7 separate regions of the Homo sapiens genome follow, and all the other regions are reported to be linked to region 1. Evidence: microRNA targets listed by miRTarBase, many of them from high-throughput screens and not tested one by one. Region 1 holds a microRNA gene; each other region holds the end of a gene's coding sequence.
The links. Region 1 holds the annotated microRNA hsa-miR-3127-3p (UCCCCUUCUGCAGGCCUGCUGG, at 1,228-1,249, shown strand). A microRNA usually pairs through its seed, bases 2 to 8, with sites in the 3' UTR of a target mRNA and lowers its output. Matches are read on the target gene's strand: a 7mer-m8 pairs with bases 2 to 8, a 7mer-A1 pairs with bases 2 to 7 and ends in A, and an 8mer does both.

Region 2: miRTarBase lists CELF1 as a target of hsa-miR-3127-3p. Seed matches in the 3' UTR shown: 7mer-m8 at 1,111-1,117, 7mer-m8 at 1,757-1,763 and 7mer-A1 at 2,957-2,963.
Region 3: the mRNA of NDUFAF6 is a reported target of hsa-miR-3127-3p. Seed matches in the 3' UTR shown: 7mer-A1 at 787-793.
Region 4: the mRNA of CADPS2 is a reported target of hsa-miR-3127-3p. Seed matches in the 3' UTR shown: 7mer-A1 at 838-844.
Region 5: the mRNA of C8A is a reported target of hsa-miR-3127-3p. The part of its 3' UTR that is shown has no 7-base or 8-base seed match.
Region 6: the mRNA of RHEBL1 is a reported target of hsa-miR-3127-3p. Seed matches in the 3' UTR shown: 7mer-A1 at 1,134-1,140.
Region 7: the mRNA of FAM199X is a reported target of hsa-miR-3127-3p. The part of its 3' UTR that is shown has no 7-base or 8-base seed match.

Annotation. Positions count from the first base shown.
Region 1 is chr2:96,797,097-96,801,173 of GRCh38, forward strand. It overlaps MIR3127 (microRNA 3127), which reads left to right and starts at 1,182; the gene lies at 1,182-1,257. CNNM4 (cyclin and CBS domain divalent metal cation transport mediator 4) reads left to right here. Exons shown (of 7, transcript NM_020184.4): 2 at 1-59; 3 at 417-551; 4 at 1,961-2,130; 5 at 2,456-2,552. RefSeq lists an enhancer at 3,615-3,944.
Region 2 is chr11:47,468,919-47,472,995 of GRCh38, reverse strand. It overlaps CELF1 (CUGBP Elav-like family member 1), which reads left to right. Exons shown (of 15, transcript NM_001376376.1): 15 at 639-4,077. The coding sequence ends at 766. Among named protein-coding and RNA genes, the nearest start is that of RAPSN, 22 kb to the right of the region's middle.
Region 3 is chr8:95,057,505-95,061,581 of GRCh38, forward strand. NDUFAF6 (NADH:ubiquinone oxidoreductase complex assembly factor 6) reads left to right here. Exons shown (of 9, transcript NM_152416.4): 9 at 305-1,206. The coding sequence ends at 433. Among named protein-coding and RNA genes, the nearest start is that of MIR3150A, 13 kb to the right of the region's middle.
Region 4 is chr7:122,316,776-122,320,852 of GRCh38, reverse strand. CADPS2 (calcium dependent secretion activator 2) reads left to right here. Exons shown (of 30, transcript NM_017954.11): 30 at 515-2,442. The coding sequence ends at 688. Among named protein-coding and RNA genes, the nearest start is that of FEZF1, 14 kb to the right of the region's middle. RefSeq lists an enhancer at 3,123-3,977.
Region 5 is chr1:56,917,261-56,921,260 of GRCh38, forward strand. It overlaps C8A (complement C8 alpha chain), which reads left to right. Exons shown (of 11, transcript NM_000562.3): 11 at 305-963. The coding sequence ends at 456. Among named protein-coding and RNA genes, the nearest start is that of C8B, 47 kb to the right of the region's middle.
Region 6 is chr12:49,061,821-49,065,897 of GRCh38, reverse strand. RHEBL1 (RHEB like 1) reads left to right here. Exons shown (of 8, transcript NM_144593.3): 7 at 467-548; 8 at 706-1,222. The coding sequence ends at 795. Among named protein-coding and RNA genes, the nearest start is that of KMT2D, 3.1 kb to the right of the region's middle.
Region 7 is chrX:104,188,982-104,193,058 of GRCh38, reverse strand. FAM199X (family with sequence similarity 199, X-linked) reads right to left here. Exons shown (of 6, transcript NM_207318.4): 6 at 1-3,451. The coding sequence ends at 3,281. Among named protein-coding and RNA genes, the nearest start is that of FAM199X, 25 kb to the right of the region's middle.

The DNA of each region.
Region 1 (4,077 bases):
GGAGGACGTGATCGAGGAGATCATCAAGTCGGAGATCCTGGACGAGTCCGACATGTACAGTGAGTCCAGCCTTCCACAGGGCCCAGGACCCCTTTCCTGCTTGGATCGAAACTTGGTGTCCCTAGCTGGAAGGGCCATAGTGCAGGGACACAGGAGGCCTAGCATCCAGAGGCCCAGTGGCTGGGTGCCCTGCACTGGCCGGGGTGAGCAGGGAGCAGGTTGCTGAGAGCAGTGCCCGGAGGCTGCCTTCACCCTCGGCCTTTGTGCCTCGGCGTCAGCCCAGGACCCTGCCAGCCAGAGCCTGCTGCTCCTGCGTGGGACTAGGGGCTGGAGAGCAGGAGCTGCGGGGCGGGTTCCAGTCTCTTCCTAAGTCCTCAGGGGTCTGTGTTCTCAATTCCACGCTCTTCTTCCGGCAGCTGACAACCGAAGCCGGAAGCGGGTGTCTGAGAAGAACAAGCGTGACTTCTCTGCCTTCAAGGATGCGGACAATGAGCTCAAAGTGAAAATCTCCCCGCAGCTCCTCCTGGCCGCTCATCGCTTCCTAGCCACAGGTAGCATGAGGAGGACCTTCCGGTCTTGGTGGAAATACGGTCACGGGGGAGAAGTCCTGGGTTTCCGGCTGCTTTCCCCCCATAGGACGAGGGCTGCAGCAGGTGAGGGGTGCAGAGACAACACAGCCACCCCTGGAAGGGGCCGGGTATCTGCTCCACCCCTGGGGATCTCCCTGCGATTCATTTGCCATTAATGGGCGGCTACTGCAAACTTCTAGGAAGCATCCAAGTTACTATATTTAATAGTTTGGGAAATAATGACTAGGCACTATGGCTTATACCTGTAATCCCAGCACTTTGGGAGGCCGAGGCAGGAGGATTGCATGAGCCCAGGAGTTCGAGACCAGCCTGAGCAACATGGCGAGACCCCATCTCTACAAAAAATACAAAAGCCAGGCATGGTGGTGCCCTCCTGTAGTCCCAGCTACTTGGGAGGCTATGAGGTGGGACAGTTGCATGTCTGTGGTCCCAGCTACTCAGGAGGCTGATGTGGGAGGACCGCTTGAGCCCAGGAGTTTGAAGCTGCAGTAAGTTGTGAATGCACCACTGCACTCAGCCTGGGCCACAGAACAAGATTCTGTCTCAAAAATAACAAAAAAGAAAATAACCACTGAGGTGGGCCCCTAGGCTGGCCAGGCCCATCAGGGCTTGTGGAATGGGAAGGAGAAGGGACGCTTCCCCTTCTGCAGGCCTGCTGGGTGTGGCTGGACCCCTCGTGTGCTCACCCACTCTGAGGAGCTTGCATCCAGCTCTGCTCTTACTCTCCAGCTCTCCCCTTTGCAGACGTGTGCTGGTTCCCGCAGGAATTCACTTCTAGTTCAGAGACATTTCTCTCTTTTCAGCCCTGATTCAAAGCTCCACTGGGGACTTGGGTGACAGGTTCTGCTCTGCCCGCTCTGTCCCCCTCTTCCCCTGGCCCAATTCATCTTCCTTCCCACCCCTTACTTGCTAAAGGGGTGGCAATTCCCTCTCCATTATTTTTCCTGTGGGATATTGATGCTGATGCAATAATTATAGTCTATATATTTTAGTATATATGGACAGCACATATATACTAAGTGCTGTCCATGTGCTATCCCATTCACCCTCACAACCACCCTGTGAAGCTTTTACCCCCATATTACAGATGAGGAAACTGAGATGCAGGTTAAGTAATTTGCCCAAGGTCATGTGCTGTTCTTGCAGGAGCCACTGTTCAAGCCCAGGCAGGCAGGCAGCCTTGTATCCAACCAGTCAGAAGCCAAGCGTGCTCCCTCCCCAGGGAGGTGCAGAACGAGGGCCGGCCGAGCAGGGCGGGAGTCGTCTGAGCACAGCGTGGCTGCTGTGGTTGGGGTGGAGGCACAGCAGTGATCGAGCTTTAGGGCCACCTGGCCAGCCCCGTGTGAGGTCTCTTCTCTCTCCTCCTACAGAGGTCTCTCAGTTTAGCCCCTCCCTGATATCAGAGAAGATCCTGCTGCGGCTACTCAAGTACCCAGATGTCATTCAGGAACTCAAGTTTGACGAGCACAATAAGTACTACGCCCGCCATTACCTGTACACCCGAAATAAGCCGGCCGACTACTTCATCCTCATCCTGCAGGTGAGCCCGCTCAGCCCTGGGCCTGCCACCTGCTCCCCCTGGCACTGCAGCAACCCCCAGGCCCTCTCTCCCACCTGCTGCGGAGGTGCATGGCTTCCCTGCCTGGGGAGCCTGCTGCCTGCCCTTGAGCCCCGCCTGCCCCACGTGGCCATCCTCTCCCTGAGAGGCCACTCTTGATCTCACAGGTCAGGCCCCTGAGCTCTCCAGGGCTCCAGTACCGGCCCTTCCTCCTGCCCCACTGTCCCTTGTTCCTCACTCCCCATCCTGCCTCATCCTTTGTTTCCTCCCTCACTTGGTCTCTAACTCCAGCCCTGTGTTTTTTCAGGGGAAGGTGGAGGTGGAGGCAGGGAAGGAGAACATGAAGTTTGAGACGGGCGCCTTCTCCTACTATGGGACTATGGCCCTGACCTCGGTCCCCTCCGGTGAGTTGTTGGGCATGGTCTTTGCTGCCCTTTGGCCCCCCTGCAGCTGGGGAGCCATGGACCGACACCAGAACTGAGCATGGGCCCGAGAGCTCATAGCCAGCTGGCTGGGGCAGAGGGAGGCTGGTGAGGCGGGAGCCGCCAGGGCCTGGAGCGGGTGGTGTGGAAGAGCAGAGGGAGCTGCCACTTTGGATGGGGTCCAGAAGCTGGAGGGGAAAAGAGGAGTGAGGGATTTTAGAGTAAAGGCCTGGAGGCAGCGGAGGGCATGTCCAGAGGTTGTGAGGAGACCAGCCTGCTTGGAGAGGAGGCCTGTGGGGAGGAAGGCCCAGGGCCCTGCTCCTGAGGACAGGAGGGGAGTCTGAGCATCCAAAGTGACTGGGGTCAGGAGCCAGGCCAGGGCCTGTTTGCCAGGGCAGGCTGCAGATGGGTTTGGCTTTTCGGAGGACGCGGCTACTGGGTTTTGGTTAGAGGTCAGCTCCGATGGAATAAAGGGCCTTGGGGACAGACAGAAGGGAGACTGGGCACCCTCCGAGAGGTGTTATGGAAGGTCCGGGGATGCGCCACTCTGGCCGCCCCAGTGCCCTCTCCTGTGCTGAGTGGCTCAGGCTTTCCCCGCAGAGCCCCACAGACAAGGCCCCGCAGGCCCAGGTCTCGCCAGCTCATCTCCTCGCTCCTCTCCAGGCTTCGGTCCTGGGGCGAGGTTGCTGCAGGGTAGAGAGAGAAAGTCCACTTTGGTGCTGGAGAACAGGCCACGCCAGTGGGGTACGAGCTGCAGCTCCCAGAGAACCTCTGTGCTGTGCCTCTCACTGTCCTTTGACAAAAAGGACCCCGAGGGGGAACGGGGGTAGGGCACCCATGAATACTGACACCCAGCTTGGCTTATCCACCATGTCCTCGGCCCCTCCACCAGATGAGTGGGGCATGGCAGGCTCCCTGGGCAGGGGACAGACAGGGCCCCAGAGCGGGGCTCTGAGCAGGTTAACCCTATCAGATGCCTCAGGCCTGGGGATGACTTCCTGTGCCTCCAAGAGCAGCTGTTCTCTGTTCAGTTTGAGGAAATCTCATTCAGAAGGGCGGGCAGGCACGGGAGGCTTCCCCCAGGCACTGTTTGTGCAGTGAAGCCTCAGAGGCCCGGTTAGGGCCCAGGCTCTGTCCGTTGACCCATAGTCTCTCTGTTCCCACTTGGTGTGGCCAGAAGAGAGGGGAGATGACTGGGCACACTCAGCCAGCTTCTGCCTGTCTCCGCACAGGGCTCACCGCTGTGCCCTGAGCACCCTTCCCAGCAGAGCCATGTCCCTTTCTCCACTGGGCCCATCTCTGCCCAAAGCAGCCTGGCCCCGTCAGGTCTGCCTCTGTCCTGTGCCTGTGGTTCCGTGTCCTGTCTCCTGACTGCGCCCATCACTGACCTTCTCTTTTGCTCCAGTGCCTTCAGTCCAGGTCGGGTGTCCGCCTGGCAAGCGGAACTCCCTGCTCTGCTGGCTCACAGGTAACGTGGCACAGCTGAGGGTCACGCTGCCACCTGCTG
Region 2 (4,077 bases), not on the chromosome of region 1:
GTGGTGTTGTTTTAACTTGGCCATGGGCAGGTCATTATGACCTCTTTTTGAGCCCCAGTTTCTCATTGCTGTAGTGGAGGTAAGGATTTCTACCCACACTGTTGCTCCAGAGAGAAAAATAATATATGGAAAATGGTTTGCAAAAAAACCTTTAAACAGTCCAGGTTTGTGCCTGTAAGTCCCAGTACTTGGGGAGGCCAAGGCAGGAGGATCGCTTGAGCCTAGGAGTTCGAGACCAGCCTGAGCAACAGAGTGAGACCTCATGGCTACAAAAAATTAGTCAGACGTGGTGGCGTGTACCTGTGTTCCCAGCTACTTGAGGCTGAGGTGAGAGGATCACCTGAGCCCAGGAGGCCAAGGTTGCAGTGAACCATGGTCACACCACTGTACTCCACCCTGGGTGACAGAGCAAGACCCTGTCTCAAGAAAAAGAAAAAAACCTTTAAATTACCATGTAGCTGTTAAGTGGTACTATTAAGAACCTAATTTATTTCGTATGACATAATGTCCAGATTTCTTGTCCCTGCTGAATAAAATTGGGATTTGAGATGAAGCACATAAGGTATCTTGCATAAGGAGGACTGAGAATCTCCTTGCCTCATTATGTCCCTCACCTAGGTTTCTGCTTGGACACACAGGTTTTGTAAGTTACGACAATCCTGTTTCGGCCCAAGCTGCCATCCAGTCCATGAACGGCTTTCAGATTGGCATGAAGCGGCTTAAAGTGCAGCTCAAACGTTCGAAGAATGACAGCAAGCCCTACTGAGCGTGCTCCCCTCTGAGACTGGAGTGAGAGGGTCTTCTGGTAAGTGGGGGAGGAGCACCCTTAATGATTCGAAGCCCTGAGGCTGTGTGTTGACAGCCCTGGACCCTGATCCCTGCCACTCTCGCAGGCACAGCTTGCCCTGAAGACTCGGCTACTGCCTTCTGTGGGAGTTTCGCTTCGTACAGAGGACAAGTTTGTGCTTTGGTTTCCAGTGTTTTACTTTGGAGTTTAGGTGCCATATCCTGAGGTTTTTTTTGTTTTTGTTTTTGTTTCTCCTTTATTTAAAGTTTGCTGTGTTTGTAACCAGTGTGTGTTGAGAAGGACCAACACCAAACCACCCTGGGGAAGGGGGACAGGGAAACATTTAACACAGACGATGATCAGGATTTGCCCCAAACCACCCCAAGAGAGAGGACTGAGTGGAACAAAAAAGTGACCCCCAGAACCTCTCTTAGTGTGAGGGTGGGTAGAATGAGAACTGACACCTGGGAGCTGTGGGGAGCAGAGCGGCTTTGGGGAAGAGTGGAGTGACTAGACACCTAATGCCCTGGCAGCTGGAGACTCAAACTCCTGTACAGCTACCTTCTGGGAAATAGTTTTTGACACCTATTTTTCAGATTCTTGTCCGGAATTTCTGCTGCTCTTTTCAAAAAAGGGCATTAACAATTCTCTGGAAATAAAGCACCTGTTAGCCTGACATATGCAAAAAGCAGGGCGGCATCACCCATTACGAGCTCCCCCAGCCAGCAGTCAGTATTGGATTGGCCTTGCCTGGCTGGTGGCAGTTTGGGAGAAACAGCCAAAGAGGTTAGTTTATTTCAACACCAAATTAGACCATGGCCCATTTCCAACGGGTCTCTTTAAAGGCCTCTATGGAATACATTGCCTGGTTTCCTTCTTTGCAGTTCACCACAGCAAGGAATGTCACCTCCATCCCAAGCCACCATTTTCTCATGAAGGCAAATCCAAGAAGGGCTTGCAGTTCTTGCTGAAGGGGGTACCATTTGTGGGCAGAGTGATCAATACCATCTAGTTGGGGGAGGAGGAGCTTATTTCTTGGTGTACTTGAATCAGAAGGTCCCTGCAAGCCAGTATGCTTCATTTGCCAGTGGCCAGAAATTCTCCCTTGCCTCCTTGATTGAGGTGTCCCAGATGTAGTATTCCCACAGGGGTCTGGCAGGCCCCTCCTGTAACCACTCCAGTCACATTTTCTGCTCTTGAGGCAGAGGTGACATCAGGACGTTTACAGCCTCCACATGAATTGAGTGTTCATTTACCTCAGTATTACCGTGTTCATTTTTGTCCTCGTGCTACAGTTAGCTCCCTGCCGCCTCTTGCAGGTCTTACTTCAGCTCTTGCCTGTGACCCACACAGCTTCTGGGCTCTGCCTCTGCTCTAAGAAGTGCTGTGGGGGTAGAGAACCAGGAAGGACATGCTGTTGGGAATGTACACCTGGGCAGAGGTGGCCCTGTTAAGATGTGACTGTAGCCACAGCCAGGGATGGGATCCCTGGGTCTCTGGAATCTGAAACCTCAACAAATACCAGTCTTGACCCCTAGCAGCAGAGATAAGAATAAAGGGGTTGGTTTGCTATTAAGTCAGATGGGGGCTCTCTCCTTGTCATGCTGTCCCTGTGGGTAACAGACAGGGATTGACCATCTTACTGTTGTACAGGTAGCTGGTGGTGTTGGATTATCCCATTGAAGCTGGGACAGCTGTTCCTTTCTCATAGTGATAACTTGGGTCTGTTGTCCTCTAAGGAACGTGAAACATACACTTCTTAAGCTGAACCACGTAAACTTGAAATTCTGCGCACTGGGAGAAATGTGTCCTGTGTTTCAAAGGATAAAACTGTTCTAAAGGCTTCCAGGGTCATGATGGGATTTTTTAAATAAATGCAAAAAATAAAAATAAAAAAGAAAAAAGAAAACAAAAAAAAAAAAGAAAAAAATGCTAGGTTGGGGAGGCGCTGTTCTGAATCCCAACCGGCTGGAACCAAGAATGTCGTTTCTATTTTTATAGAAGTTTTATACAGCTCCGGGGTGGAGAATATTTATTACCTAAATTATATCTCTGGAAAAGGCCAGGATTTTGTAGAATCCAGAATGTGATTGTTATACACACAGGGTGCTGTGTATGATTGAAACTACTGACTTTCTGTGGCCCGTTTGCAGCCCAGCTAACCTGCCCAAGGGGAAGGTGTTAATGCTGTGAATTGGCAGAGGAGAGAGCTGTGCTCCATAGGGTGCTGCCGGTGCTGTGCTCCCTAGCCTTCTGTTCTGTCTTCCTCCTTAGCCAGAACGCCACTCCCTTCCCACATCCCCTTCTTCTCTCCGCCTTCCCCCATCTCACCATTATTTGTCCATGGATTTGTCCTGGGCTCTGGGACCTTATGAAACCCCTTTCCTAATGACATAAGAGGCCAAGGTGCAATCCACCCACCTTTGATACCAGACCCTGAGGGCTTCATACCTGCTGATGGGTTTTCTTTTCTAAAAGGAATGCTCGCCCCAGCAGGGTCCTGGGCTGCTTGAGCAGCCAGCTGGTGAGACCATGCACTTCTCTGTTCTCTCCTCCCCCTGCCCAGTGAGTTAGCACAGCAGTAGCACTGCCCTTGAGCACAGTTCTTTCCCCAGGCCAAAGATGGTTTTGTGAAGAAGCTGCTCCCCTACAAGTCTCACGTGTGAAAGGGCTCAGCTCAGAGTGGAGACTCGCTGTCAAGTCTTAAGCAATCCTTTTCTGTTGTGTGAAGGTTTCACTTACAATGTGTTTTCTGCTGTAGTTTTGTTTCTTACTTGGGTTACATCATGAAATTGATTTGCCTTGAATGCAGCCAGACCACTGTCTCCTGGGTTCCCCTTGAGTGGCCAGGGCCTGGATGGAAGCTAAGAGCTTGGATTTCTGGGAACAAAGGGCCATCCCCATAAGATTGAGCAGAAATTCTGGTCCTCTTCCCTGAAAAATTTTCCCCACCCCAGCCAGCATCTTCTGCTTCCCCTTGGGTTGTGACCAGGGAGTGGGGAGAGAGGCTGAGGCTCTGCTCCCCTGGAGACCTTCTCTTAGGAGTTGGGTGCTTCATGGAAAATCCAAGCCTTAGGTTCCCTTCTGTCTCTGGCAATTAGATGTGTTCTTGGTGTCCTCCATGTCCTTTTTGACTTTTCCCTGTGTCCATTGTTAGCATGTGCAAAAGTTCCCTGTCATTACCCAACCCCTGCCCGCCCACCTCATTTCAGGGCTGTACACACAGTGAGTGTTCCTGTTCTCTCTCTCTTTGTTTGGATGTATTGCTCTGTGTAACTCAGTGGGTCTCC
Region 3 (4,077 bases), not on the chromosome of region 1:
TCTAGTAATAAGGCCAGGCAAACGTGATTTTGCTAATCCTTTTGTCTTAACCAAAGCTTTTTATATTATGAGCAGAAGAGGCTTGGCTTTTCTGGTACTAGCTCTGTGATACCCTTTTACTGGTCTAATAGAAACTTCTTGGATGTCTTTTTCTTTCTCTCTTTTAAAATTCTCACTTAAATAGAAAACCATCTCAGGGAAACTAAAATAGCCTAAATACTTGTAATTATTCTTTAGTTAGTTTTTTTTTTTTTTAAGTCTTGATCATTTTATGATCTGGTGATCACTATTCTCTTTTTTCCAGGTTTCTCTAGAGGACTTTCTAAAGAAAATTCAGCGAGTGGATTTTGATATATTCCACCCATCTTTACAGCAGAAGAATACATTACTTCCATTATATTTGTATATTCAGTCATGGAGAAAAACATATTAAAATAATTTCATGGCATTGATGTTAATTCTAGTCTATTAGTTTTATAAAAGTTAGGATTCTTATTTAGGAACAACAGGAAATGACTGTTAAGGAGAAAATGAATTTATTGAATGGGATGTCAAGTAGCTCACAAAATTGAGAAGTTGCCGTGGGACTAGGGTGCCAAGACTGCTGAGATTCTGGCAGAGGCACTGCCATTGGCACCCCTGGCCCAGACAGTGTCTGCTGTGCTGTCCCTGGAAGCTGGAGCTCCAACAGGGAATATTGGTGTAGCTGTGCATAGGCCATAAGCCACACTTGAGCCAGTGGGCAGGGAGAAGGAATGTCATTCTCCCTTCACCACTGGGGAAGGAAAGGGGAAAGGGCTCAAGTTATCATAGGGGCTTACATGCTGAGCAGCTATAACCTAGGTGTTCAGAACACCTGGAAGATGCATTTATTTAGGGGTCACAAATAGTGAAATTAATATTTGAGGAATATCAGTCACGTGTTGTGGGCTTTTATCCTTAACGTTTAATTTTTACAATCTTGTGTAAAAATTTATCCATGATAATAACATAACTTCTTTAAGGTTGGAGTGGCTGGCAAGAGCAGAGCCTTAATTTGACTTTAGCTCTGGCTGGTCTGGAAGCTTTTACTTTTTTGTTAATCCCACTTCCTCACTCTGTCATTCAGCATTATCATGATCGTGAACAAAATTGTACTGAGAAAGTTTGTATAAGTGATATGAACGGTATTGTATTGAACATCCATTAAAGGGTTGCTACACTTTATACTGTACATTCTGCGCTATACATTGTGCTTCCCAGTGATGAGCACTGTGCTGTATACTTGCATCAGTGTTCTCATTTGGTTTTCCTAAAAACCTGTGAAATGAGGCACATTTTTGTTCATTAAACTTTTAAATTGTTTGAGACCAGCCTGGGCAACATCCAAAACCCCATCTCGACCAAAAATACATAAACTAGCCAGGTGTGGTGGTGCACGCCCAGCTACTAGGAAGGCTGAGGTGGGAGGATTACTTGAGCCCAGGAGGGTGAGGCTGCAGTGAGGCATGAGTGTACTCCATCCTGGGTAACAGAGCAAGACCCTGTCTCAAAGACAAACGAATAATAATTAATAATAATATAAAACTTTTAGAAAATGCATCCCAATTGGAAAAACCCAAATTTTTTACATTGCTGGTAATCGGTCGATCTGACTCTAAATGAATCTCACTCTCAGGACCAGGATTATGCCAGTTTCCTTTTTCCTGTATTTTCAGTAGTCTTGTCTCCTGCCCCATTCGGCTCTCTCATTTAAGTCTTTGGTATCAGCTATGAATTAGTGCCTACTTAAATTGTGAGTGGCTTAAAATGTTACATTTTTGCAAATTCAAACTGAGAGCTTTTGGAGCACAAGAATGCATTGTTCATTCATCTTGACATCACCCCCACCACACACCTAGAATGGCTTCTGATTGAGAGCAAGTAGAGATTAATAAATATATAGTTGAATGAATGTGCAATGTGGTTGTATATGCTAGTAGACTCTTAGTTGGTACTGATGTTGAAAGTAGATCCCCTTCTTTAATTCTGTGGCTTTCGAGAGCCATTCAGCTTATCTTCAAATGAAAATACAAGGAAATGGGGCCGGGCGTGGTGGCTCATGCCTGTCATCCCAACACTTTGGGAGGCTGAGGCGGGTGGATCACCTGAGGTCACGAGTTCAAGACCAGCCTGGCCAACATGGTGAAACCCCATCTCTACTTAAAATACAAAAATCAGCCAGGTGTTGTGGTGGGAGCCTGTAGTCCCAGCTACTCGGGAGGCCGAGGCAGGAGAATCACATGAACCTGGGAGGTAGAGGTTGCAGTGAGCTGAGATCGTGCCACTGCACTCAAGCCTGGGCAACAGAGCGAGATTCCATCTCAAAAAAAAAGAAAAAAGAAAAAATACAAGGAAATGGGACATGTTTCCTCTTGGGATTCTGAGTGATCCAGGGTTGAAAAGTTCATCAGAGAGTCTTTGTTAGGGAGCATTGTCTGCAGGTCTTCCCAAGTTAAATTTGGCAGCAATCATCTAGGCGTCTTGGTTCCTTTCTAAGGGTCTTAAAAGGAGGGTTTAATTACGCGACTGGATTAGTGGATTCTTTGCTGGCTCAGAAGCCAATTTATTAAGTAAATAATTTCAAAATACTTTCTAAACCATTTTAAATTTGATGCTTACAGATTTGGATGAACTAAAGTTACCAATCTAGAGATTCAAGTGGAGTCTTTATCAGTGAAATTTACTGTACTATTAATTTCCTGGTGTAAAAGATACTCCCTTAGATGATGCTGGCATTCTTTTTGATTTTTTCAAATCTCTGGGTTTTTATTAGAATATTTTAAAGGAGTCAGATACATTTTCAAACCATTTTAGATGTGCTTTGTTGTTGAATAAGTGGATAGCAGATAACATATTAAGTATAAATTACAGATTATTCTCAATGTAGGTAAAGTTGCATATCATTATGAAATAAGTTTTGGGTAGTTCTCAATTGGCAATATTCTTTCTCTCCTTGTGGTTGAAGCTCTCCTTTTGATGAAATTGAATTCTTGAGAAATGTAACTGTAGCTAACACTTATTGAACACAAACTCGAACAGGTGGTGTACTTCGCACTTTTATGCTTTAACTCTCATAGTGAAGTAGGCCTTTATTTTCCAAATGATAAAACAGTCTCAGAGATGTTAAGTTCAAGGTCATGGAGGCATTAGTACTAGAGCTGGATGCCAGATCCACATTAGTTCAATGCCAAAGCCCAAAGCCCATTATTTTTTTACCATTCTTGAGATTGTCAAGTAAACTGCCAAGTTTAAAAGCTCAAAGGCACATTTTTTAGAAATAAGTATTACTGCTTAAATTTCAGATACAAATTAGGTTAAAAAAGGTAATTACTACATAAGTTCCAACTACAAATTAGGTGAGAGAGAAATAGACAATCGAAATAGGTGTTAGGTGCTGGTCACTGGGTGTATATGGTGGGGGAGTGTGGGGGGATGCTTCACCGGCTTGGCAGTCAAGGTTTCCCAGAGGAGATGGCATGTGAATAGTGTCAGGAAGATTGGGTAGGACCCAGGGCTTGGGGAGGGGTTGTTGACGTTTTTGTGGGGAGGTCCTGGCTGAAGAAGCAGTGTGTACAAAGGCCAGGAAACGGAATGGATGGTCTATGTCAAGACTCTTGATTTTTTTGCCTTTAACTTATGTAAAAAGAACAGAATGTTCAGAGTTCTTAGGAAAGTTTGTGAATAAAGTGACCACATCCCCTGATCTACTGAAACACTGAATTAAGATCAGAGACTTGCGAGTTTGTATTTTTTCCATTTCAGCAAATCCCTAGGTGCCCTTGGATTTGTTTTAGCTCATATAAATTGGACTTTTCTGAAGATATTGGCTTAATCGATTGCCTTGTCTAGAAAGATCCTTACAGTTGTAAACATTATGTGGTTCTTTACTGAAAATAAAACAAAACATCCTACTGTTTGTTCCTGCAAGGAACACAGGTCCAGAATTGGGAAGGGTGTTGGAAATGGGTCAGAAGGAGGGGAGAAGAGTTGAGGGAATGCATTAAAATAATTTTGACACTTCATTTTACCTACTTTTTTCTATAATGAATGTATATT
Region 4 (4,077 bases), not on the chromosome of region 1:
GTAAATAAATTTTATAATTCACTGAAATGCTGAAAATGTGAACTTCTTTTACCGATAATAGGATTAATCTTCTTCCTCCACACAACTGACCCCTCAAAATTAATGCATTTTATAAAATATAATGTATTTTTCAGTATTAAAGGAAAGCCCCCTCAATTAAAAAAACTAATAATTTCTTATTAAAAACTTACACAGGTACATATTTTATTTTTGCTACAGGTTGTTCAAAAGGTAAATTGTGTGCAATTAGTAATGTTCTGAGGGGAAAGTGAATTTGTCATCTGATAGTAACAACATTTTGATGTAGTCATAGTAATTGTAGTTTGAAGCAATAGCCAGAGTCTGTCATTCCATTTACTCCCCAGAAATACACCAAGAAGATGATTGGCATGGACAGCCACATGAACCTATCAGTGGATTCCCCAAGATCATTTTTGAAATGCCAACTGAGTATATATCTATGTACACGCATATAATCTAAGTGAGCTAAGCAAATTTTATCTTCTTTCTTCAGAAAACCTACAGGGACTTTCGATTGCAGGGTGTGTTGGAAGGAACACTGAACAGTAAGACTTATGATACTGTGCACAGACGTTTAACAGTAGAGGAGGCCACAGCCTCTGTTTCAGAAGGAGGAGGACTTCAGGGCATTACTATGAAAGACAGTGACGAAGAAGAAGAAGGCTGATATCACACAGCTTTGCAGAAGGAAGGAAGACCTTGATCGACATTGTTTTTTATTTTTTTAACCTTGTCCTTGTAATTACATTCATTGTTTGTTTTGGCCAAATAAAAATGCTTGTATTTCTTTAAAAAGTAAGCCTGAATGTAGAGTAAAAGGGGAAATGCCAAGATTTTGGGGTTTTTTTGTTTCCTTTTTTTGTTTGTTTGTTTGTTTGTTTTTTTGGAGAAGAGCATCCTCTTTTGTGTAGTTTGACCTAAAAATGAACCTTGGCTCTGCTTGTGATCAGAACATGAACTTTTTTTTTTAAAGAAGATTTGAGCATTTTTCTGTAATCACATCAAAATGATGTTTTCTGTGTAAAGCGAGATACATATTTCTCATAATGCAGCATTGTGAGAAGTCAGTTCGGACCACTGCACCAACACTGTCGTATCCTTGTTAAAATGGTGTGTACCTTACAAATTATAATTTATGTGCCAGGTTCGTTTTGTACTTAATTTGCTATTATTGTGATGTGTATAAAATCTTTAATCTTGGTTCTTAGTACTTTGAATTGGTCTACAGGTATATTCCTGGGATGAAAGGATTGCCAAACCCAAATATAGACTAGATTATCCAATGGGTTTGTGTCTTTGTTCCATTCTCAACATTTCTTCTTTCAACTATAAGTAATCCCCAGGTGTGGGGTAGCAAGTGTGCTTCCGTCAAGATACCATATTCTCCTGCTCCAGTATAACAGCTTGCAGGCAATAAAAATCTATTTGCTCATAACTACTTCTGTATTTATTAGACTTATATAGAGCAAATGCAGTAAAAGAGGTTTGCAGTGTTTCAAACATCCCAACTATCTGACTCTGTGTTTTTGTTTCTTGAGTTTTTTGTTTGTTTTGTTTGTAATATTTTGTTTTTAATCAAATGAGTAAAAGATAGTAACACTGACTGTTCTTTGTACCTAATAGGCACATACATTGTTAAAAGAATTACTATGACAGCATATTTCCATAGCAGAGGAAATATATATTTCATATATTATTAGTTAATATTAGTAATCAATGTTAACTAATAATTAGTAATGTTAGTAATATTAACTAGTAATTCACATTATTAGTGGTTCTCTCAAAATATTTTCTTGCTAGGGTTTGAGAGATAATTGTATTATGTTGCGTAAGTTCTCTATGAATTATTTTTGTGATATTTCCCAAAACATATTGGCAGATTGTGCTACTGCATTTATTAATAAGTAATTTTTAAATGAAGGCAGTTAATGCAGAATAAGTGGAGGTATCCCTGCATTTATGAAAACGTTTATTCTGAAACTTTAGAAATGAAACAACTTGGACCTCCAGATTCGTTCTCCCATGGTGTAATAAGTGGTCGTTAGGTACCTAGACTAGCCTTAAAAATCTATTTAATCTACAGTTACTATTTAGCATTGTTTTGGCTCATTTTCTGGGCCCTAGGGCTAAGATAACAAACAAGGAAATTTCTTCCTTCTTCCGGGATTAAAGACTAACTCTACCAACTCACTATCTTTGAAAGGCAGTTTGGGAATGTTCTCCCTCCTTTTCTTCTCTATTCACACACCAAATACTATTTTCTCCAAACCCTCAAATGTCCAGTCATGCTATCCCAAACTCTCCAATGGCACCATCCCCAAGCTTGCTGTTCCACGACACATTGCTCTGTACTTAGTAATTACCCACCCTTCTTTTCCTTTCAATAAAATGTCCATTTCCTTGATACAGATCATCTCCAAATAATGCATCCCTTTTGTCCTGAAGTGTAACTAACTGATGACCTCAAATGTATTAAAAGTCGGCCTTTGTTAAAGAAAAGTTTATTTACTCTAAGAAATGACAGCTGACAGAATTCAGAAATAAAGAAGAAAAGCAGATGCTGCAGGGGAAAGTATTTGCGGCCTGGAGGTTCTTGCTGCTGACCTGGCCTGTTTAACCTGCCCATTGGCCTCCTTGGCTGGTCAGCCCCTTTGAGGTTCTTTCCAGATTTTTATGTTCTCTGCTACTTCCCTTCTACACCCAGGAGAGTCCTAAAAGCTTGTTCCCTACTCTTCACCCACAGTGGCTTCCAAAGCAAAGGCAATAGCAGTCAGGCAGGTAGTGGAGCTACTTGCATCCTTATGAGAAAATCGGAGACCAACCTTTGATCCATAAAAAAGATGTATGAAAAAATTCATAAAGTAACTGAAAAATAATGAAAAGTGATTTTTAAGTTTTTCCTCCAAACTAACTTCAAATTGAACTAATTGCAAAGTGCTTGAAATGACTTAATAATTGTTCATTGATGGGTATAACTATTAGGATGAACACCCAAGCATCTGTCTATTAAAGGATGCCACATCTTATGTGGTATTAACTCTTTTTAAGGATTATTTTTTAAGAAAATGGATTTAGTCAAAGGCCTAACAACTCTTGCAGAATTTTTTAAGTGAAACAATTTTGTCTAAAAAGAAATAGCTATACCCGTCTAAATGATTTGGGGGAAGGGCAAACAGGTACATTATTTGGACAGTTTCCTTAGTGTTGCAGGAGATAATTAATACCATCTAACATCCAACCGGAATGGGTTTGTTAAGTAATACGTCAAGAAGGAAAATTTTTTCAAACACTTGAAGAAAAAAAAAATAATAATGCCTATTCCTGGAAAAGGAAAGAACCATGCAGAGCTTAATGTAAACCTCTTGGCTCCAGCAGTGGGTCTTTCTTGTATTCACTGATTTTTCCACTTGAATTCTCTTTAGTCCTTGCTCATTGTCCCTCTCTCAGGAGAAGGGAGTTCCCGCTTCTTTTGCAATAAACGCCCAGTCAAAGCGTCTATGTGCTGCCACCCCGCCACCCAGGGTCACAGTCCAGCCTGGCCTGGCGCCGCCCTCAGCCTGCAGCTACCGGCGGTGAGAGGGTCCACCGGCTCCTTGAAGGTGTGCTTGAGAGGGAAAGAGGTCACTCAGCCGTCGTTGCTCAGAGATCCTCGAAGCCCCTTTGCGCTGCCGCGGTCTGCCTCCCGAGAGGGCCTGGGGACAGCAGGCGCGGGGACCGGACCGAGCAAGCCCGGAGTTCACAGGAACCCCGCGCCCCCGAGCTCGGACCCGTCCTTCTGATCCCGCCAGCCCGCGTGGAAGGGCCCGCGGGGGGAAATTAGGGCAAGAGCTTGGTCGCTTTTATTTCTTATTCCCAAAACAGAAAATGGAAATTTCCCGGTCCGGGTCCTTAAAGGGAGGTGATAGATCGATGTTCCGGAGAGATGTTCGCGCTCGACTGGCGGCGGGGCATCTGCGCGCCGGGATAGCAGCCCAGCCTGCCAGCTTGCGCTCTGCGCCTCTCGGCTCTCAGCAGCTCCAAGCCCCCGCCACAGCCCTCCGCCACCCACCCCACTTT
Region 5 (4,000 bases), not on the chromosome of region 1:
GGATGGCCTTCCCTCCTCAGTAGCAGCTCTGCAACTCCCTGGACAGAGCCCCCAGGGGCAATTAATAGCCTGACTGCCATGGTCTCTGCAGTGAAACTGCCCTTGCTACATCTGGACTAACAAAGGAGCAAAGACCCTATGTACCTTATCTGTACGTACCTCCAACAAGCTGCAGTCGACCAGAGGAGGGGAGGCCAGTTCCTCTCCCAAGGGTGCCACACACCCCTCCCTGTTCATCACCAGACAGGCCCTTCCTTCTTAGCCATATGCTAACCTTCTCCTCCCTGGGAAATTTCCTCTGCAGGAGCCAAAGCAGATGGGAGCTGGAGTTGCTGGAGCTCCTGGTCTGTATGCAGAGCAGGCATCCAGGAAAGGAGAAGAGAGTGTGACAATCCAGCACCTCAGAATGGAGGGGCCTCGTGTCCAGGGCGGAAAGTACAGACGCAGGCTTGCTGAGGGCCTCTGGACACAGGCTGGACCAGATGCTGTGGATGTCGACCCCTGCACTGACTATTGGATAAAGACTTCTTTCAACTAAGAGAAGATGCAAATCAGCACACTTTTTTCTTTGTTCTGCCAGCTTCCAGGCCTAAGACTAGGTTTTGCTGTCTACAGCCAACTATTCTATTAGTTACAAAACTCAATCATTTTATTCAGCAACTGGATGTTGACTGTTAACTAGAAGCTCTGTCCTACTTACAGCACTTTGGATCATCAAAAAAATAAAGTAAAATAGAAAACTGAGAAAACTCAATCCATGACCAGGGAGAACTTACAGGATGTTAGAGACAAAACAAGCAGACACCTGAAACAATCAACGCCCAATAAAACAAAGTAGGATGAAAATTCTCTTAGTTCTTTGATAACAATTTGTTCACTCATAGAAACATTATTAATTGGTAGGGTAAGCAGACACTCTGAAACAATGAGAAAAATACTAAAAATTGACTTGAGTTATTTCAATTTGCCTTCATTTGAACTCGTTTATTAATTCAATTAATCTCTCTAGTTCCCTTAAGTTCTTACCACAAATGTGACATTTCTCCTGATTATTTTCTCATGGAACACTTCTTTTCCTACATTGCAATTTTCACAACTAGTAATTATATTATCTTAGTCTATTTGGGCTGCTATAACAAAAAGCCATAAACTAGGTGGCTTATCAACAACAGAAATTTATTTCTCACAGTTCTGGAGGCTGGGAAGTCCAATATCAAGGCAGATTCAGTGTCTGGTGAGGGCCCACTTCTTAGTTTTTACAGGACTGTCTTACTGCTGTGTCCTTACATGGCAGAAGGGGCTAGGCAGTCTCTTAGGTCCCTTCTTTAAGGGCACTAATCCCATTCATTAGGGCTCCATTCTCGTGACCTAGTCACTTCCCAAATTTCCCACCTCCTCATGCCATCACTTTGGGGTTAGAATTTCAACATATGAATTTTGAAGGGACACAAATGTTCAGATCATAGCATATATATTTAATCCCACATCTCCTGTGACTATGTAAGACCTATCTCTTCCTAAGAGATAATAATCTTGAGGGCAGAAGTCAGGCTTCTTTTGTTTAGCACTGTAGCCCCGGAGGTCAGGCTTGTGCCTTAAATGTAGCAGGGACTTAGTAAGTAGCTGTGATTAAATAAGTGAATGAATTGAAGAGTCAGTTCATAGATGAGGTACACATTGGTCAGCCTCCCAGAGTGGAGAGTGGATTTGAAGAGGCCAACTAGTGACGATCAATCCGCCTTCTCTGACCCATCTCTAGGGGAGGCCAATCACACCAGCCAGCCTCAGAATCCCACAGCCCTCCAGTCATGCCTCAAATAGAGAACATGTTAGGTAGCACTGAATTTTCTGTTTATCCATCAGTTTCCCCTATTAGATTTTGAGCTCCTTGAAGGCCAAATCTACAATCCTAGTGTATAGTAGGTACTCAAGAAATGTCTGGTGACTAACATATATATTGATGCTTCAAGTCATTCCAGAGTCCTCAATCTTGTTAAAGTCAGAATAAGAATTATGTACCTGAAACAACTAGAGGAGGTTTTAGGGAAATTAATTGTTGAGTTAATGCTAAAATATGTAGCACACAAAGTAAGTGCTGAAGGAGGCCAGGTGGGAGAGAGATTTACCTTTCCATTACTGTGTATATTGTGGATGGCATGGGGATTGCCCCAGGCCCTGAAGGACTTTTCAACTAGGCAAACTGGGAGGAGATCTCTCAGACAGAAATTCGGCATGAGACAAAGTCTGAAAGTGAGAAAGACATTTGGGGGTGCATGCAGGTGCGTATGTGTCAGGAAAGGGGAGTGAGGAAAATAATGCATGTAAATAAAATAAGGCATATAAAACACTTGGCACTATGCCTGTCATACAGGACATTATTACCCTCATGCTTATCGTCATCATTATTAAGACTATTATTAATTAAAGAATGTGATTTAGAAGTTAATTTCTGAACTCTTTAGATCTTCTACCTGAAAGAAGAAAAAAAACTCTCCTATTGCTTTTCATCCTGTCATTAATTTGCTTTTTACTTTTTAACTTACATTAATAATTAACCTACATTCATTATTTACTGAGTAGTGGCAGTTACATGCTAGAAAGTGACCAAGGGCCAAATATGCCAGGCCACGTGGGCACTTTAAAGAGAACGTTTGATCTTGACCTAAAAAAACAGTGGTTCTTAAACTTGGTTGTATGTTACAATCACCTGAGCAGTTTTCAAAACCCTGATGTCTACAGACTGCACCCGAAACAAATTAAATCTTAATCACTGGGTGTAGGGACCAGACATCCATAGTTTTTTGGGGTTTTTTTGTTTGTCTGTTTGTTTTGAGACAGAGTCTCCAGGCTGGAGTGCAATGACACAATCTTGGCTCACTGCAACCTCTGCCTTTGGGGTTCAAGTGATTCTCCTGACTCAGCCTCCTCAGTAGCTGGGACTATAGGTGCACGCCACCATGCCCAGCTAATTTTTGTATTTTTAGTAGAGATGAGGTTTCGCCATATTGGTCAGGCTAGTCTCGAACTCCTGACCTCAGGTGATCCACCCACCTCGGCCTCCCAAAGTGCTGGGATTACAGACTTGAGCCACTGCGCCCGGCCTGACATCCTTAGTTTTAAAAGTTCCTCAGGTGATTCCAAGTGCAGCCAAGGTTGAGGCTCCTGAGAGTGGAGGAATCATTATACCTGCATGGGGAATGGGGTCTGTGACAAAACAAAAAGGCAGGGACAGTAAAGTTATTTGTGCTATTTTAACTAGTCTTATGCAAGATCTCTTAAGGTTTGTTTTCTATGTCCTATTGTGCAGCCAAGAAACTGAATCTCAGCAAGGTTGAGCCTCATGGGTCACAGAGCAGGCCAGGGTTTGAATGCGTCACATCAAACACACGCTTCCATTTCCTCCACCCACCCTTTGCTCTTGTCTGCTGGTGGAGGGATTTGGAGAATAGTGTGTGGGGCACAAGGGAGGGGAGGAAACCAGAGGCAGGGAGGCTCATCAGGAGGTAAGTGTAGTAATCTGGGCAAAAGATGAGAACTTTGAGATTAAGTAATTGCCTGGATCATCTGTGAGCCAAAACCACCAGCTGAGCAATGCTGTCTTCCTGTCTTCTGAGCCAGAGAACCCAAGCCAGCATCTGTCCCACTCCTCTGAGGATGCTACATCCCCAAAAGCTTTACAAATTAAAATACAGTGGCAGTTTCAAGCATAGCAACCCTTTATTACATCAGCAGCTTTCCCTCTTCAAGAATGACTGGCTCTCACAAAGCAAAAAGCATAAAACTCATCCAATGCATTTTCCCTTAGGTCTTTTAAGAAGATCTATAATCTAAGGTTTTATAGGTAGTGGGTGTAAATACATGGTTTAAAGATATAATCTTCAGCTTGACAAGGTGTCTTTTGAAAAGTAAATTAATGACAGAATAAAAAGCAATAAGGAGAGGCTTTTTTCTTTTTTTTTTTCTTTGTGAGAAAGGAAGATCTAAAGAGTTCAGCACTCAA
Region 6 (4,077 bases), not on the chromosome of region 1:
GCTGGAGTGCAGTGGTGTGATCTCGGCTCACTGCAACCTCTGCCTCCCGGGTTCAAGCGAGTCTCCTGCCTCAGCTTCCCAAGTAGCTGGGACTACAGGCGCGTGCCACCACGCCCAGCTAATTTTTTGTATTTTTAGTAGAGACGGGGTTTCACCATGTTAGCCAGGATGGTCTCGATCTCCTGACCTTGTGATCCACCCGCCTAGGCCTCCCAAAGTATCGGGATTACAGGCACAAGCAACCGCGTGTGGCCCATTTTTTTTTTAATAGAGATGGTGTTTCCCTGTGTTGTCCAGGCTGGTCTTGAACTCCTGAGCTCAAGTGATCCACCACCTCGGCCTCCCAAAGTGCTGCATTACAGGCATGAGCCACTGTGCCTGGCCAGGAAGTCTTGATTCTGAAGATTTTTCAGAGCACTTACTGACATTTCTATCCTCCATCTTTATGTCCCAAATTTGCTTCCAGAGAGGTACAGGCAGTTGAAGGAAAGAAGCTGGCAGAGTCCTGGGGTGCGACATTTATGGAGTCATCTGCTCGAGAGAATCAGGTGCTGGGCCTGAAGACTAGAAGGGTGGTGATGGTAGCTGTGTTTTCCTTATTGTACTGCTTGGTGGTGGGAATGTTGCGGGAATGGGGCTTTCACCCCAGAGCTGGGTGGTATTGGCACTGAACTGACTTTTGCCCTGAATCCTCTCCTCTTATAGCTGACTCAAGGCATCTTCACCAAAGTCATCCAGGAGATTGCCCGTGTGGAGAATTCCTATGGGCAAGAGCGTCGCTGCCATCTCATGTGAGCCCTTGGGTGTGGGGTAACTGCCTTGCTTCTGCCCCCGGCACTTGCCATGTTCCAGTGGGGGGCAGATCCTCAGGACTTCACGGGTATGGTTGCCAGCTGTGTTCCTGGCCCCTGGACACACAGTGTGGCATCCTCATGTTTGCACACTTTCCCCAGGCTCCAGTGGCCTGGATGTCAATGTTTACAAAGGGGCAAGGACCTCTCATGGACACTGGCCTCTAGCCCTCTGTTTTTGTTTGATGAATTCTGTTATAACCTATGGGGTCAGGATATGAGTCCTGGGCATTATTTATCCAGGACCCATCCTCTTGGGTGGGTTTTGGGTGTTGGCTGGGTAAGGGGAGCCGGGGACTTCTGAAATAGAGCTGGCTCCCTGGGGTGACAATGTATATATGCAAATAAATTGAGAAATCTTTTGTTGTTGACTTCTTTTTCGTGTGTGTGTGTGAGACGGAGTTTCACTCTGTTGCCCAGGCTGGAGTGGTGCAGTGCTGCAATCTTGGCTCGCTGCAACCTCCGCCTCCCAGGTTCAAGCAGTTCTCCTGCCTCAGTCTTCTGCAGGCACCCGCCACCATGCCTAGCTAACTTTTTTATTTTTAGTAGAGATGAGGTTTCACCTAGGCCAGGATGGTCTCGAACTCCTGACCTTAAGTGATCCACCCACCTCAGCCTCCCAAAGTGCTGGGATTACAGGCGTGAGCCACTGCCCCCGGCCTTATTTTATTGTTGACTTCTATGTATCTAGTGAGAGCTCAGAGCCAAGATCTCTTTTTCCAAGGAGTGATGGCTGTGGTCTTTGGTGGGATATCTTTCCTCCTACCTTGTTCCTATTCCTTATTCCTCACTTATTAAGGACCATTATCCTAAGATTTACTACTTGCCTTTCCCACCTTTCTATTCTGCTGGGTTCCTCATATACTAAGTCCAGTTGGCTGCCACTCCCATCCAAGTTTTGTAGCCTTTCAAGATCCCCTTAATTACAGAAACACCACCCTCTAGTGGCCAACTGCAACATGCTGACCTAGCTGTCTTCCTGGGGCCTCGGCATTTGCTTGGATTCAAAGATGATGGGGTTTCAGGAGAAGAAAGGAAGCCCCTCATTCCTAATGATGTAAGAATTGAGAAGGAGTGTAGAGGCAGAGACTAAAGTGTTGTGAAGACTTTGACTTCCCAAGAGTGTTGAGTAAAGTAAGAAATAATGCCTCCGGTGCATATCAGTCCCCTGGCCCTCCATGTCCCCAGTGTCTTCCATTAAAATGGCCGTTCTTTGCTGTTTTCATACCTTTAATCTTTTTGTACTTTTTACACCTTTGGTGGTGTGCTACTTTTTTTTAGGTGTCAAAGGCTATTGGTTCTGCTTTTATGGGCCTACCGCCTCAATGAATTGATATTTCAGCTAGGAAAGTTTGGTCCTGTTTGCCTCTGCTTTTCTTGATCCCCACCCTCCCACCAGCCTGATTGCCTAACTAGTCTAATACCTCCTCCAAGGATGTGTAAGGGTTATTTGAATGGTAGATCTTCACAGAGAAGGTACAGACCTCTTCTGACAACTGGGGGAGCCCGAGGTACCCTATCAATGTACTTACTTGGGAAGGATTGACAAAACCTAGATGTGATTTTTAGCTGTGACTTTGTCAGTGCCTGGCTCCAGGCTTACAGTTGGGGATATGGCTTGTCATGCTGATTTTCAAAAGTCCTGACAGCTGCTTTTGCTTTTCTGATCCAGAATCTAAAAAGAAATAAGGGCTGCTAGAAGAAACATACTCCAAACAACAATCTCACTGGCTTAGGAGGTTCTTCTGGTAGGTCACCACTGTCTCTCCTTATGTTAAAATTAAGTCTTTTTGCACATCTGACCTGGGATACTCATTACATGAGCCTACCTTCCTGCTGCCATTTTCATGAGGTCTGGGGTAGACTTAGAAACATCTAAAGTTTTCTAGTTTATCAATAATCTCAAGGCCTGGGGACAGTAGTGATAGTGGTTAATAGCTCCTCCACTTAGCTGTGTGGCCTTGGGCGGTCACTTAACTTCTCAGAGCCACCATTTCTCATTTATGAAGAGTGGCTAAGTGTGCTTCATAGAGTTGAGATGAAAATTAAACGAGGTAATATATGCAAAGCTTACTACAGTTCTTCACACATAATAAGTCCTTAAGAAATAGTGGGGTGGTGGCTGGGTGCAGTGGCTCACGCCTGTAATCCCAGCACTTTGGGAGACCAAAGCGGGTGGATCACCTGAGGTCAGGAGTTTGAGACCAGCCTGGCCAACGTGGTGAAACCCCATCTCTACTAAAAATAAATTAGCTGGGTGTGATGGTGGGCGCCTGTAATCCCAATTACTAGGGAGGCTGAGGCAGGATAATCGCTTGAACCTGGGAGGCGGAGGTTGCAGTGAGCCGAGATCGCGCCATTTCACTCCACCCTGGGCGACAAGAGCGAAACTCCATCTCAAAAAAAAAAAAAAAAAAACCAAAATAGTAGGTGGCTATCTGTGTTATTACTGGAGGTCTTTCTGGTGAGGGTCTACCTCTCCCTGCCTCTGGGTGCAAACCTGGGAGGGGCCTTCCATTTTCCAACTTGTTTCTTGGTTAACTTATTCTATTGTAATTAAAACAAGTGTGGGATCACTGCTGGAGTTTTTTTTGCTCAAATATGTGTGAATGGTCAGTGCAGAAAACATGATGCCAATGTGTGGCTGGAAGAGGACAAACCTAGTCCTGATCCCTCCTATTACTCTTACCAGTAGGGATTAAGGTCTCCTGCACTGTCTAATATAAAAGCATCACCTCACATGTGGCTATTTAATTTCATTAAAATAAAAAGTTCCTTACTTGTACCACCTGCATTTCAAAGTGCTCGAGAGCTGCATGTGGTTGATGGCTACCATATTAGATAGTGTAGATTTAGTCCATTTCCATCACTGTAGAAAAGTTCTGTTGGGACCGGGCGCGGTGGCGCATGCCTGTAATCCCAGTACTTTGGGAGACCAGGGCGAGCGGATCACGAGGTCAGGAGTTCGAGACCAGGCTGGCCAACATAGTGAAACCCTGTCTCTACTAAAAATACAAAAAAGTAGCCGGGTCTGGTGGTGTGCGCCTGTAATCCCGGCTACTAGGGAGGCTGAGGCAGGAGAATCGCGTGAACCAGGGAGGCGGAGGTTGCAGTGAGCCGAGATCGCACCACTGAACTCCAACCCGGACGACAGTGCGAGACTCTGTCTCAAAAAATAAAAAAAGTTCTCTTGGACAGCATCGTAAACCCTTTCCTCACAAAGCTG
Region 7 (4,077 bases), not on the chromosome of region 1:
GTAAGCCACAAACAAAAAGTCTCTGCTGGAGAACCCAGAAACAAACAAGACTTCTATATTGGTTGTGTACTAATATTTCTGGCTAAAATATGAAGACATTTGCTATATTTTATAATTTTTAAAGCTCATCAGAATCTGGATACCGCTATAGTTTCCTATAATTTTTCCTTTATGAGAGGATTTAGCACTTTTAAAAGCTAAATAAAATGAGAAGTTCACCCAATCTATAATGAGTCATTATTTTATAGGTCAGTTTCTGAGATTAATTCACCAATATCTAATTCACTCAAGGGACAGAGGAACTGGACAAAACTGCCATAGCCTAACAAAAATGAGGTAAGTCTCATGAAAAAAAAGTGTTATTTTATTCTAAGTTCTTGTTGGGAGAGAATGAACTAGCCCTTTATACCTCACTACACATTATAATACATCACCTTCCTTTAATTCAGTTGCAAAACTATAGAAAAATATTATATATGTCATTTTGTTAAATGCAAGTCTCATCCTTTAGAAAGCTGTAGTAGGAACTGAGATACTACTATAAGATCTCTAATAAAATGTTTCTGGATAAATCTGTGGGAAATGTATTACGCCCTCAGTTAACAAGGCTTATTTTCAAAGGGGAGACTTAAAATTTGCTCCAATGTCAGTTCTCTACAGATGAGAACCAATACTACAGCAAGTAAGTCTTGCCTTTTTATTAATTAATTGGTTAGTTAGGATTTGTATTTAAAAATAAATATTACTGAGTTGGATTGTTTTAAATTGAACTCAGAGATACACCATATTGAATAAATTATTACTTATTCCAAGAAAGAAATAGTTCAAACTTTGAATTATCTACACAAGACATTAAAACGGAAAAAATGTACAGCACATGAACAGACACCAAAGAGCTTTTTATGTCTTTCTCTGCTAGTTTCTTTTTTGGGGGGACAGAGGACTATCTAATCTCCCTCTTCAATCACAAGCAAGCCCAAGTTAGTTAATTATTTTCTTTTAATCAAAGGAAATATTTTCAATCTCCTTCAACCCAACTTTATGGACTATCTCTAATTTATAGTACTATAATGACAGTTCATCTGGATTTACACAAAATTTCATGATGCACTTCTATAAACATTCAAACCTTTACAAACGTTAAAAATCAACTTTGTGGCACTTTGGTAAACTTGCTTAATAGTGACTCAAGTTAAATTGAAAGTAATAAGACTATGTGATTATTGGGAGAGTAGGGGAATTGGTCTTAAATTATATCATGACCTTGTTTAGGGTTTTTTACTGATGACCGTTAAGTAAATAGTTTCCAAGTATTTGACAGATAAATGGTGCTCTATGGTCTCCAAAAGTGGCCTGTTTTCCTTGAAGAATAGGTAAAGACAGCAGGCAATCATTCTGTGGGATTTTGCTTTTGCTAAGAGCAGGTAGAGAATTTAGATACAGTTACTATGCTCTATTTGCTCTTCCTATACTTGGAAGGGAAAACAGTGAGGTTAAGTTGTTCCACCTCCACAGAGTATTCTGGTGTCTATCCCTAAGCTCTCTTTGGGTCCTCTAAGCTGGTTAGGAGAACCAAAGAGGGGAAGGGGGAAAGTAAGAAAGACTACTCCAATTGAAAACCATAGACACATATGTTTTATTTTAGTAAAAATTTCAAATTATGACTTTAGTAGTCTTTAAAAGGTTACAACCATATCACAGACCTTGGCAAAGCTGCAGTGTATTAATTTTTATCCCCAGTTTCCATTCTTTAACCTTCAAGGAACGAAAATGAAATCAAAATTTTAAAACACATGATTATAAGCCTTTGTATCAACTGAGAATTAAGAATTTAAGTCATGAATCTTTTTCTTAATAAGCTACTTGACGTAACAAAAAGTAAAAAAAAAAGAAATCTTACTAACCTCTGTACTCTTAGAGTTTGAAAAATATTGATTACAGCTCTTCCTACAGAATCACGGTCACCTTCAAAATGCTATCCACAATATAAAGAAAATTATGAAAGTCAGAAAGCAGCTTGATTGTCAGTAGTATCAGTTTCCATCTTCTTTAACCCATGTGAATGTTCAAGACATGTGGTAGAAGAAAAGGAATAATGCTATTTCTAATGTTCATGATAACAAACACTCTAGGAAAACATTTAAAGAAACTCCATGATTTCACAGTTAAAATTAGAGCTCTATTAATAACCAACAAGCTAAGGTGTTTTCTATATCTCATTGCTCTGTATATTTCTAGCAATTTATAGAGAAGTTTAGCAGATCTACAAGGGTTTTCATCAGTTAATTTTCAACATTAACTAGGTCACATGCCAGAAGCTGTTATACCAAATATTTAAAAATTAGAGCTGTGCTGAAAAAAAAATGACCTACAATAAGAACTTGAGAGAGATATAGACTGACTTCCTGCCTGAGACAATTTTACAGCCTAAAAATTCTGAAAGCAACAGAAAAGCAGAATTGCTTATTTTGCCTAATTACTTTCACCATTTAAATATTAATCAACATAGCATCAAGTCTAAAATTCAGCTACTAGTAACATTATTTCATCAGTAGTCATCACTTAAAAAAGGATTCTGAACTTACATAAAGTAAAAAACAAAAATAAATCTAATAGGAAAAAGATAAGGGCCTGTTCTAATACCTTTGAGTCAATAATGAATGAAAACAGACAGAACTAAAACTAATGAAGGCACTATCGTAAACAGCAATCCACACCTTGCCCACCCCCACACCTCAGAAAAGATTTCCACCAGGAATCAAGAATTATGCTATGGCCCTTTAGGAAAAGTAAACTAAGAAATTGTAACATTAAGAAGGGAACTAAATTATGATCTCTACACATGTATGTATACTGACATAATAAACTACTGTCAGCAGTACCTTGAAATCTTCTAAACTGTGTAAGTACTAGTCTTTGAAGACGCCCACTTCACCGCCATAAACTTTAAACAGTCAAAACGTTTACCCAAAGTAGTGGTTCTTAAACTAGACTGTGCATCAGAATAACCCAGCACTTGTTAAAAAAACAATGCTAGGCGCCTCCCTGTTGGTTTCTGATTCACTATGTCTGGGGGCGGGGCCCACTAGTATGCATTCCTAACAACTTCTCAAGTGATGCTGAAGCTGCAGGTCTTGGGATCACCTGCCAAGAACCACTGGCTTAAATTATTAATGGTACATCAGCACAGCCCTAACCAAAATTTTGGTCAAGATGCATGTAAACCCATAAGGATGGAGTATTTTAATGCTCACAAAGAACGTTGATAAATTCACCCTTATTACATCAAAACATCAACATCTGCTTCATGGTCTTCCTCAGTCACTTTCAAGGACAGCACCTCTTCGTTAAGGAAGAGCCCACTGAGCCTCTCCTTCCGGGCCTGCCTCTGCTCCTTCAGCTGCCTCTTGCGGAAGGCCTTCTGCTGTAACTTCCGCTGCTTGGATCGCTTCTGTCAAAATAAAAATTTCTAAATCAGTTTGGTTTAGTTTTTGGCATATCCACCCCAAAATGTTTTGTGGATCAAATTCTCTATTTTCTAACTTTAAGAGCTGTTCAAATCCTTCTGTAGTATGATCCTTGTTCCAATAAGTGAGCCACTGGCTTAGGCTTAAAAATGATTAAGATTCCAATTTTGTGGTATTTGACCAGTGACTCTTCTGATTAGGAAGAGTTGAGACGATCATTTTGGCTAGTGATAGATAAAAAGTCACTTCAAAGACTTCTTTTTTAAATTCCATTAAGGTACATTGGTACAAATGCATAATGAACACATAATTAATACTAGGCGACAATACTGAATACACCTGTGGAGAACATTGCCCAAATCTCTAATACTTATGATTCTCAGGTGCCTTTCATCCAAAAACACTAGCAATCTTACAATGGCAGGTAAAAAAAAAATCATGCCTTTTTTGTAGTAGGCGAATACCATCTTAAAAATCCATCAGAAACTCAGTGGATACTCCCATCCTTGTCACCGGTGAACTGATAATAAAAAGGAATGACCACATATCTAGAGAAATTCCTTAGCAACAAAACTGGCTATGTTTCTGCTACTTCCCTAAGAACCAGGGA